Regions from separate parts of the Homo sapiens genome. Here region 2 is linked to region 1. Evidence: fine-mapped expression QTL. A gene starts in region 1. The other region holds a variant in brackets. All regions are shown on one strand. Distances are between the middles of the regions. Region 1 holds the start of ANGPT4 (angiopoietin 4). Region 2 overlaps ANGPT4 (angiopoietin 4).

Evidence for each region. PIP is the estimated chance that this variant, and not a neighbour inherited with it, causes the effect. A credible set is the group of variants that fine-mapping cannot tell apart.
Region 2: its variant is the best candidate, but not a certain one, in a credible set for the expression of ANGPT4 in subcutaneous fat (GTEx, PIP 0.59).

The regions. Positions count from the first base shown.
Region 1 is chr20:913,605-917,990 of GRCh38, forward strand. ANGPT4 (angiopoietin 4) reads right to left here and starts at 2,730. Exons shown (of 9, transcript NM_015985.4): 1 at 2,302-2,730. The coding sequence starts at 2,610. It overlaps LOC105372492 (a long non-coding RNA gene), which reads left to right. Exons shown (of 3, transcript XR_937185.3): 1 at 1-76; 2 at 3,722-3,817.
Region 2 is chr20:893,510-897,895 of GRCh38, forward strand. All of the region lies in intron 1 of ANGPT4 (angiopoietin 4), which reads right to left. Among named protein-coding and RNA genes, the nearest start is that of ANGPT4, 21 kb to the right of the region's middle. The variant G/A (reference allele first, on the strand shown) is at 2,091.

The DNA of each region.
Region 1 (4,386 bases):
TCAAGCCATCAGCTCTCAGCCAATGTTTCCCAAGCATCCGACACCCAGGGGATTCAAAGATGGATGAGAGTGAGAGGTGAGACTTGGGGTAGGAGGCCCAGTGGGAGGTGATGACAGCATCCTGGGAAAGATGACGAGGCCTAAGCCAGAAAGATGGACCATGAGAGAAGCCTAGGCCACAGGATGGGCTGGGCCAGCTGCCTGGGGGATAGGTGGGAGCCACAGGAAGCCCCCAGGGCACAGCCTGTGGCTGGGTGGTGGTGTCACCCTAAACAGAGACAGACAGGCAGGAGGAGGGTGTTTGGAGAAGAGCAGGGAGTCGTCTCAGGCAGCTTTGGAGTTGAGACACCCATGGACCCTCAGGGAGGTGTTGGGGGAGATCCAGGTCATGGGTTTTGGGCTCAGGATCCCATCAATGCCAATTTTGTGTCATCACGGAGCAGGATGGAGACCTGGGACCTGAGAGATTGGAAGGACATTTATGCATTCATGCATTCACTCATGCTACAGACATTTATTGAGTACCTACTGTGTGTTCGGCACTATTCTAGGCCCTGGGAACCCAGAAGTGAGCAAAAGAGACATGGCGCCTGCCCTCTGGGAGCTCACACACCAAAAGAAATGTTTTTAAGAACATTAGGTAGGGATAAGTTCTAAGAAAAAAAAACACAACAAAGCCAGCAGAGGGACAAAGGGTGGAAGAGGAAGGTGGTTATTTCGTACGGGGAGGACAAGGAGGGCCTCTGGGGAGATGGCGCTGGAGAGGATAGGAGGCTGGGGTAAGCAAAGTGGGAGTCTGGGAGAGGGAACTCCAGGGAGTAAGGGTTCTTGCTTTTATTCGGATGCATGGTTAGCCCTGGGAGGAGGGAGAGGATGTAACTTAGGTTTTGATGGGGATTCTTTGGTCTGCTGCATGGAGAACAGGAGGTGGGGGCCGAGTGTTAGCAGGGAGCCAGGGGGGCAGCCAGGACAGCTATCCTGCCTGGAGCCAGAGGTGGTTGTCAAGCTTGTCTGCTGTTTAATACCTTCTAAAACTCCAGGAATTAGTTCGCATCCTTCATTCCTCAGTCATCGCCCAGACTGTCTCCTGGGTCCCTCTCCCTTTCCTTGGTAGCTCTCACTTAGGGACTCTGAAGAGTCCCATCTCAGACCCCCCAGGATGTCTCCTGTACCCTCATGCCCCGCCAGGGCCAAGCCTGCTTTGCACACCTCTGTAGTCAGTGCTTCTCCGAGGGTACACAATAGGTGCTCACACTGCTGAAAGACGAAAGCATGACAGGGCATTCTACAGCAGCCCTGGTCTTGGGCCAAAACCACAGTGGCATCCTCAGCTCCTTGCTTCCTCCCACTCCGCATCCAATTCACCAGCAGAGCTGATGGGCTCTACCTCCAGAACCCACCAGAATCTTACTGGCCACACCCCCTCCTAGCCCCGTTCTGCTCCAGGCCTCCGGTACCTTGCACCTGATGGCTGCAGCGGCCACCTCTTTGGGCTTCTTCCTTCCACCCTGCCTCCTACAGTCTATGCTGTTGAAATCGAATCACGGGTGTCTGTCTCTGCTCACAACCTTGCAGTGGCTCCCATGACACTCAGAACAAAAGCTGAAGTCCTTCCAGTGGCCCCCCCCCCAGCTGCATGGCCTGCCCTGCTGTCACCTCTCAGACCTCCCCGCACCCTTGCTCCCTCTCCTCTGCTCCAGCTACACAGGCCTTCGCCCCATGGTTCTCCAGGCACACACCGCTGCGGATGCATTCCCTCCTCACGGTCAAAATACATGCAGCTCCCTTTGCAGAACGTTCCCTCAAATACCTGCCTGGCCCACTCTATCATTTCCCTTGTTCTCTGGGTTCAAATGTCACCTCCTCTGAGAAGTACTCTCTAATGATCTGACCTCAAGCAGCCACCCAGGGCCGCCACTTGCCCTCTTTCTTCTTCATTTTGCTTCACCATCTGACATAGTAGATTATCTCTTACTGCCTCTTTCCCCTACTAGTCCAGAGGGAGACATACTATACTGTCGTATCCCCAGCACCCAGGAAGGCTTGGTCCGTTCAGCCCTTGGTCAGGGCTGAATGGATTTCTGTTGGATGAATGAAGGGACGGCAGTTAAAGAGCCAGGTTGCCAGCTGACATTGCCCAATCTTGCTGTGTGGCCTCAGACCCACCCCTGCCCCTCTTTGTGCAGCTCAGAGACAGCCCTCTGTGCTCAGGGAAGGCCTCTTGGATGGACACTCCACCTGCTGATTGTGACAGACCCCAAAGCCGCCCTCTGCCCCCTGCAAACCTCCCATGCCCCGTACCTTCTTCAGCCACTGCGTGTTGTTCTGCAGTGCCTGCTCCAGCTGTTTCACCTGCTGGGTGGGCAACTTCCCCAGGTGCAGTGGGTTGGCCAGTGATTCTCTCTGGAGGGTGTTGGAGTCCCTGGAGACCTCAGGCCCCGGAGGGCAGGGCTCAGACTTGGGCAGCAAGAAGGTGTAGCTACAGTGGCCGTGCTGGACTACAAGTGTCTCGCAGCCCCTATCCGCCTCCTGCCTTGTCTGTTGAGCCACAGACATGGTGGCAACCACAAGGAGGAGGCTGCCCTGCAGCATGGCTAGCTGGGAGAGCATCTGAAGATGTGTCAATGGCGAGGGATGTCTGCTCAGAGCCCTAGGGGCTGTGCCTGGGATGTCCTGCTGCAGCCAACAGTGGCCAGGCTTGCCTGCAGCTGCAGCTACAAACCTCTGTCTGGCCGAGCTCTGTCCAGGCAGCTATTTATACTTGCTCTGAATACCACGGCTGCTCTGCTTGCTTCCTCTCACCGCCTCCCTCCGGCCCCACCCGACACCCTCTCACCTCTATTCTTCACTCCTTCCCTTCCTCCTTCCTCAGTCTTGGTGGCACGTCGCCCTTACCCTAAGCGTGCACCAACCTTGCTCTGTCTGCCTCACCTCTGAGCCCTCTGATTATCCAGTGAGGCCTGGCTTCCCTGCTGGAGGGGAGGGAAGAAAACAGCACACAGACACGCGCACACACTCATGCACACACTCACGAGCACACACTCACACGCACGCTGACACGCACACACATTCATGTACACACAAACGCCAAGCTCCAATGCTGCCCGCTTTGGAAAACCAAATGCAACTTAACTCTCCCTTCCTGTCTCTGTCTTGGTCTCCCTCTTTCCCTCCACCCCCATCCCCTGCCCCCCAAGTCTAAGATCTCAAGTTTCAGTCCCGCTGCCATCCCCTTCTCTCCCCGCTGCACCTTCCTCCCTCTGGTTCCATGTTAGCGCTTGGAGTACAAGTGACCCCCGGAGAGAGCAGAGGGAGGGGAGGAGGCAGAGGGGTGAGGCTGGGGAGGGCCCAGCGAATCCACTTTGCCTCTGGAGACACAGAAAATCCTTCCAAGGTGGGGCAAGTGAGCAACCCAGCTGGGAGTTGCTTCCTGTCCTCTCTTCTCCCTCAGGGCCAGGGGAAAGTGGTATGCCCCAGGATGGCCCTGGCTTGGTTGCTTGTAACAGTAATGAGAAGTTGTCATGTCCTGGGGCAGATTGTCCTGGGGCTGCTGGAGTGGGGATGTGGAGAGGAGGCAGTGGGGAGAGGAGGTTGGAGTGCCAGGAGGCTAACCCTAGATCTCGCTCCCCGACAGCTGGCCACGAGACCTAGGGTGGGCAGCTGTGCCTCTCTGGGCCTCCACACCCTGATCTGTAAACTGGGTAAACCTTATCTCTTGCAGGAGGAATGCGTGTGAGTCCTCAGCATGGGGATGGAGAAGTTTTCAGCTTCTGGGTTCAAATCCTGGCTCTACCATCTACCAGCTGTATGACTTTGAGTAAGTCACTTAACCTCTCTGTGCCTTCATTTCCTCCTGAATGAGGAAAATAATACCACCTACTTCACATGGCATGAAAATTAGGTGAGTTAGAGCAAGGTTGGCACAGAGCGAGCACTAAATAAATATTTTCCGTTGTCAATGTTATAGTTGTCATTGCACCTCCCCTCCCACGACCCACTGGAGCATAAACTCCTCTAGGGCAGGGATTTGTCCCTGGGGGACATGGTCTCCAGGCAGAAGGTGCCCAGGAGTTGGTGGGGCCTTTCCTGCATGGGCTGCCTTTATGTTCTGCCAGCTGTTTGGGCTTTTCCTCTCTCCCTGCTTGTTTCCTCAGAGTAGGGGCCAGTCTGGCTGTTTAGTATTTTCCTTTTTGTTCTCTCAAATCCCGATAGAGTTTTGAATTGGGGCAGGCTGCTTCTGGGCAGCTGTGAACTGTGGTCTCATCTGGGGACTGAGAACATTATACCAGGTGTGGGGCTTTTGCAGGCAAAGGAAAAGCAGCTGGTTATCAGCCTCCAGCCTCCCCTGAGCCTTCCCACATGCTCTGAGCTCTGCGTGCCCCGCTT
Region 2 (4,386 bases), 20 kb before region 1:
CCAAATGCATCAGGGCCCTGCCCCAGGGGCTGAGATCGGTCTTTGGACTTCCACATCCCTCTGTGCTAATGGAGCCATCACCATCTCCCACCCAGACTTCTCCCCTGCATGTCCCCAACTCGCCATCTCTGCATGGTTTCCAATGAGCATCTCAAGCCCAGTGTGAAACTCTTCATTCCTCAGCTCCCATCGCCCCTGTCCCTGTAACTCCCACCCCATGCTTCGAAATCTTTCCCATCTCAGGAAATGGCTCCACCCAGTTCTGAAGCCCCAAACCCAGACCTCAATCTTAACTTCTCTTTTTCTTAGCGGCCACACTCAACCCACTAGTAAGTACTGCCCACTGTGATCCCAATTTGGATTTCAAATCTGTTTACTCGCCTTATTCTGGGCCAGGCTGCCCTCCTCTCCATGGGTCTGCCTTTTGTGCCTTCCTGTCTTTAACCCCTCTGTCAGCTCCCAGGAGATTCTTTTTTTTTTTTGCAGTTGCAAGATTTAATAGCATGAAATAGAGTGAAAACAGAGCTCCCATACAAAGGGAGGGGACCCAAAGGGGGTTGCTGTTGCTGGCTCGAATGCCTGGGTTTATATGCCAATCCTTGTCTCTCCCACTGTGCTCTCAGGCAATAGATGATTGGCTATTTCTTTACCTCCCATTTTTGCCTAATTAGCATTTTAGTGAGCTCTCTGATTGGTTGGGTGTGAGCTAAGTTGCAAGCCCCGTGTTTAAAGGTGGATGCGGTCACCTTCCCAGCTAGGCTTAGGGATTCTAAGTTGGCCTAGGAAATCCAGCTAGCCCTGTCTCTCAGTCCCCCTCTCAACAGGAAAACCCAAGTGCTGTTGGGGAGGTCAGCTGATGACCGCACTAACTGCTTCCTGCTGAATTAGGGAGTAGTAGGGGTGGTGCAGTTGAGATTTCCTCGGGAGGGGTGCCTTCGATGTCATTAACATCAGAGCATGGGCTAGCAGGCTGGTCCGGGGGTCCGTGGTAAATCTTAGTCATGGACTGCATGTGAGCTCCCAGGAGATTCTAATGTGTGGCTGGCTGGGCCCACCAGCATGGATGAGGACAAATATAGCTGTATCGAGTTTGGTCTCAGACTTTTTCATGCATCATTGACCTCCTAGAACCTAAATTAAAAAGCAGACATCCAGGTACTGAGCACCTGCTCCAAGTAGTCAAACAGCATATTCATGCCTGAGGTGAGACTTTCCCAGGCATCTTCCCCAAGCTTCTCATTTGCCTGAACATAGACAAACTGAGGCCCAGAAGTCTTGCCCAAGGTCACCATCTGGCAGGCTAGGCTCTAAGACTCCTTGCCTGAGGGCTGCAGAGCTGAGCTGGTGATTCAGGGCAGCTCAGGGTCCCCTCAAGTGACTGGAGCTCCCCAAGCACCTCACTGGTCCCCCACTTGTCCTGTGGTTGCAAGTGGCTGGGCAGGGCAAAGGTTACCCACAGCTGGATCCCATCACCCAGTTTGCCACACCCGCCCACCAGCACAGGCCCTGGGATGGATAATCTGGGCCAGATGGGCTCAGTTAGGCTGGGCTGGGCTCTGGAGACTAATATTGGCCTGGGTGGTGGGAGCTAGGTCTGGCCCATGGCTGAGGCACCAGCTGGAAGGGCAGGGAATGGATCCCAGTGGAGGAACTCACCCAGCGTGGGATCTACTTCTCTTGTTTTTTTGGATCTACTTCTCTCTATGCCGTGCACCGACTCCAGGATTAGACCTGCCCCTTCTCCATCACTCTCAGGCTGCCGAATTCTCAGGCCTATGATGGGGTACAAAGGCCTGACCTTTTGTCACCCTTCCAGCTGGCAAAGAGACTGAGTTTTGGTCCCTGGTCTACTGCCCCATCCCCTTGGCCCTGGGTTTGAGTTCTGGCTCTGCCACACTTTCATTGTGGGCCCTTGGAGACTACTGTGTTTCTCTGAGCCCCACTTTACAGATCTGGGTCATGGGTCAGCACACCCTGCTCCTTGCTGGGGAGAGGGCATTTGCAAAGGGTCTTGAAGGAAAAGAAAGAAATTTTCACAGGCAGGGGCTGGGGGAGAGGGGGTGATTCAGACAAATAACAGGTGCAGATCC[G/A]TGGATGAGCAGCCTCCGTGGCCGAGGAGATCTGCTCAAGCCTGCTTCTCTCCTGCATTATTTATATAAAATGGACATCAATTGGTGAATGGAGAAACTGCAGTCCATCCATGCAGTGGACTCCATTGAGCAATAAAAAGGAAAGAACCATTGATGTGTGCAAACACACAGATGAACCTCAGATGGATCATGAGTGAAAAATATGCAACTCCAATGGTTCCATACTGTAGGAGTCTATTTGTATGACTCTCTAAAAATGTCAGAATCTGTGATTGCCAGGGCCTGGGTCCGGGGAGGGGGTGGGGATTGATTGTTAAAGGACACAGGGGAGCTTTTTGGGATATTGGCAATGTTCTATGTCATGATTTTGCTGGTGGTTACATAACTGTATATGTCTGTCAAAACTCATGGAACTATATGTGAAAAGGGTAGATTTTGCTGTACGTGGGTCATACCTCAGTAAAAAACAACGCCCCCAACACAAGGTTCTATAAAATGCCGCAGATATACATATGTAACATTAAATAGATCTCCTCCAGTGAACCCCCTCACCCTCTCTGAGTTTCATTCATGTGTTCATTCAGGAATTATTTCTTGAGCACCTACTATGTGCTCATCCTGTATTAGGTATTAGATAATCAGAAATGAGCAAAATTCGTAAAGTTTCTGATTCCAGGGCACTTCTACTAAATATATCAGTTGCATTGAAATCTTGATGAATGCTATGAAGAAAATAAGACAGGGTAATATGTGGGGTTGGAGGCAAGTTTAGCCAGTATGATGGAGAAAGCCCCACCAGAGAGGGCCATCTGGGCTGAGAGGCTGAGAAGAAGCAAGGTCTGGGAGAGTCAGGAGGGAGGGAATTCCAGGCAGAGGAAAAGGCAAGTGCAGAGGCCTTGAAGTGGGAGCGTGTCTGGTATTTGAGGATCAAAATGAAGATGGTAACAATGATATGCCCTGCAGCTATCTCTCTTCCATGGAAAATGGTGCATGAGGTTCCTGTTTGGGAAATGCATCTTGTCAACTGCAGATAAAAATCAATGCAGAGAGAGTAGTGCTTTGTATGGATGAAGCTGTGTGTGAATCACAGCTCTTAGCTTACTGGCTGTGTGACCTTAGGCTGGGGCCTCTACTGGTGTCTGAGCCTTTTCTCTAAAATGAAGATAATCATAGCTCCTTCCCCTGGGTTGTAGGGAGCATTCCTGAGATAACTCTGGTTGTAGTTACATAATGAACGCATGATAAATTCTGGTATGTCTGGGCCATATCTTACTATGTGTCAGGACTCTGAGCCCAAGCCTGCGCGTATACATCCAGATGGCCTGATGCAACTGGAGAACCACAAAAGAAGTGAAAATGGCTGGTTCCTGCCTTAACGGATGACATTACCTTGTGACATTCCTTCTCCTGGACAATAAGTCTCCGTAGCTCCCCACCAAGCACCTTGTGACCCCTGCCCCTGCCCGCCAGAGAACAACCCCCTTTAACTGTAATTTTCCACTACCTACCCAAATCCTATAAAACTGCCCACCCCATCTCCTTTTTCAGACTCAGTCCACCTGCACCCAGGTGATTAAAAAGCTTTATTGCTCACACAAAGCCTGTTTGGTTCACATGGACGTGCATGATATTTGGTGCTGAAGACCCGGGACAGGAGGACTCCTTCAGGAGACCGGTCCCCTGTCCTTGCCCTCATTCCATGAGGAGATCCACCTATGACCTCCGATCCTCAGATCAAACAGCCCAAGGAACATCTCACCAATTTCAAATTGAGTAAACGGTCTTTTCACTCTCTTCTTCAGCCTCTCTCACTACCCTTCAATCTCCCTGTCCTTCCAATTCGGGTTCCTTTTTCTCTCTAGTAGAGACAAAGGAGACACATTTTATCCATGGACCCAAAACTGCAGCACCGGTCATGGACTCAGGAAGACAGTCTTCCCTTGGTGTTTAATCACTGCAGGGATGCCTGCCCTGATCATTCACCCACATTCCATTGGTGTCTGATCACCGGGGGGACACCTGCCTTGGTCATTCACCCACATTCCCTTGGTGGCATGTCAATTGCAGGGACACCTGCTTTGGCTGCTCACCCATATTACAGCCCAGGGCTGCTCACCGCCCGCTTCTCCGTGTCTCTAGCTTTCTCTTTAAACTTACCTCTTCACTGTGGTCAACCTTCCACCCTGCATTCCCCCTTCTTCTCCCTTAGCCTGTGTTCTCAAGAACTTAAAACCTCTTCAACTCACACCTGAACTAAAACCTAAATGCCTTATTTTCTTCTGCAATACTGCTAGGC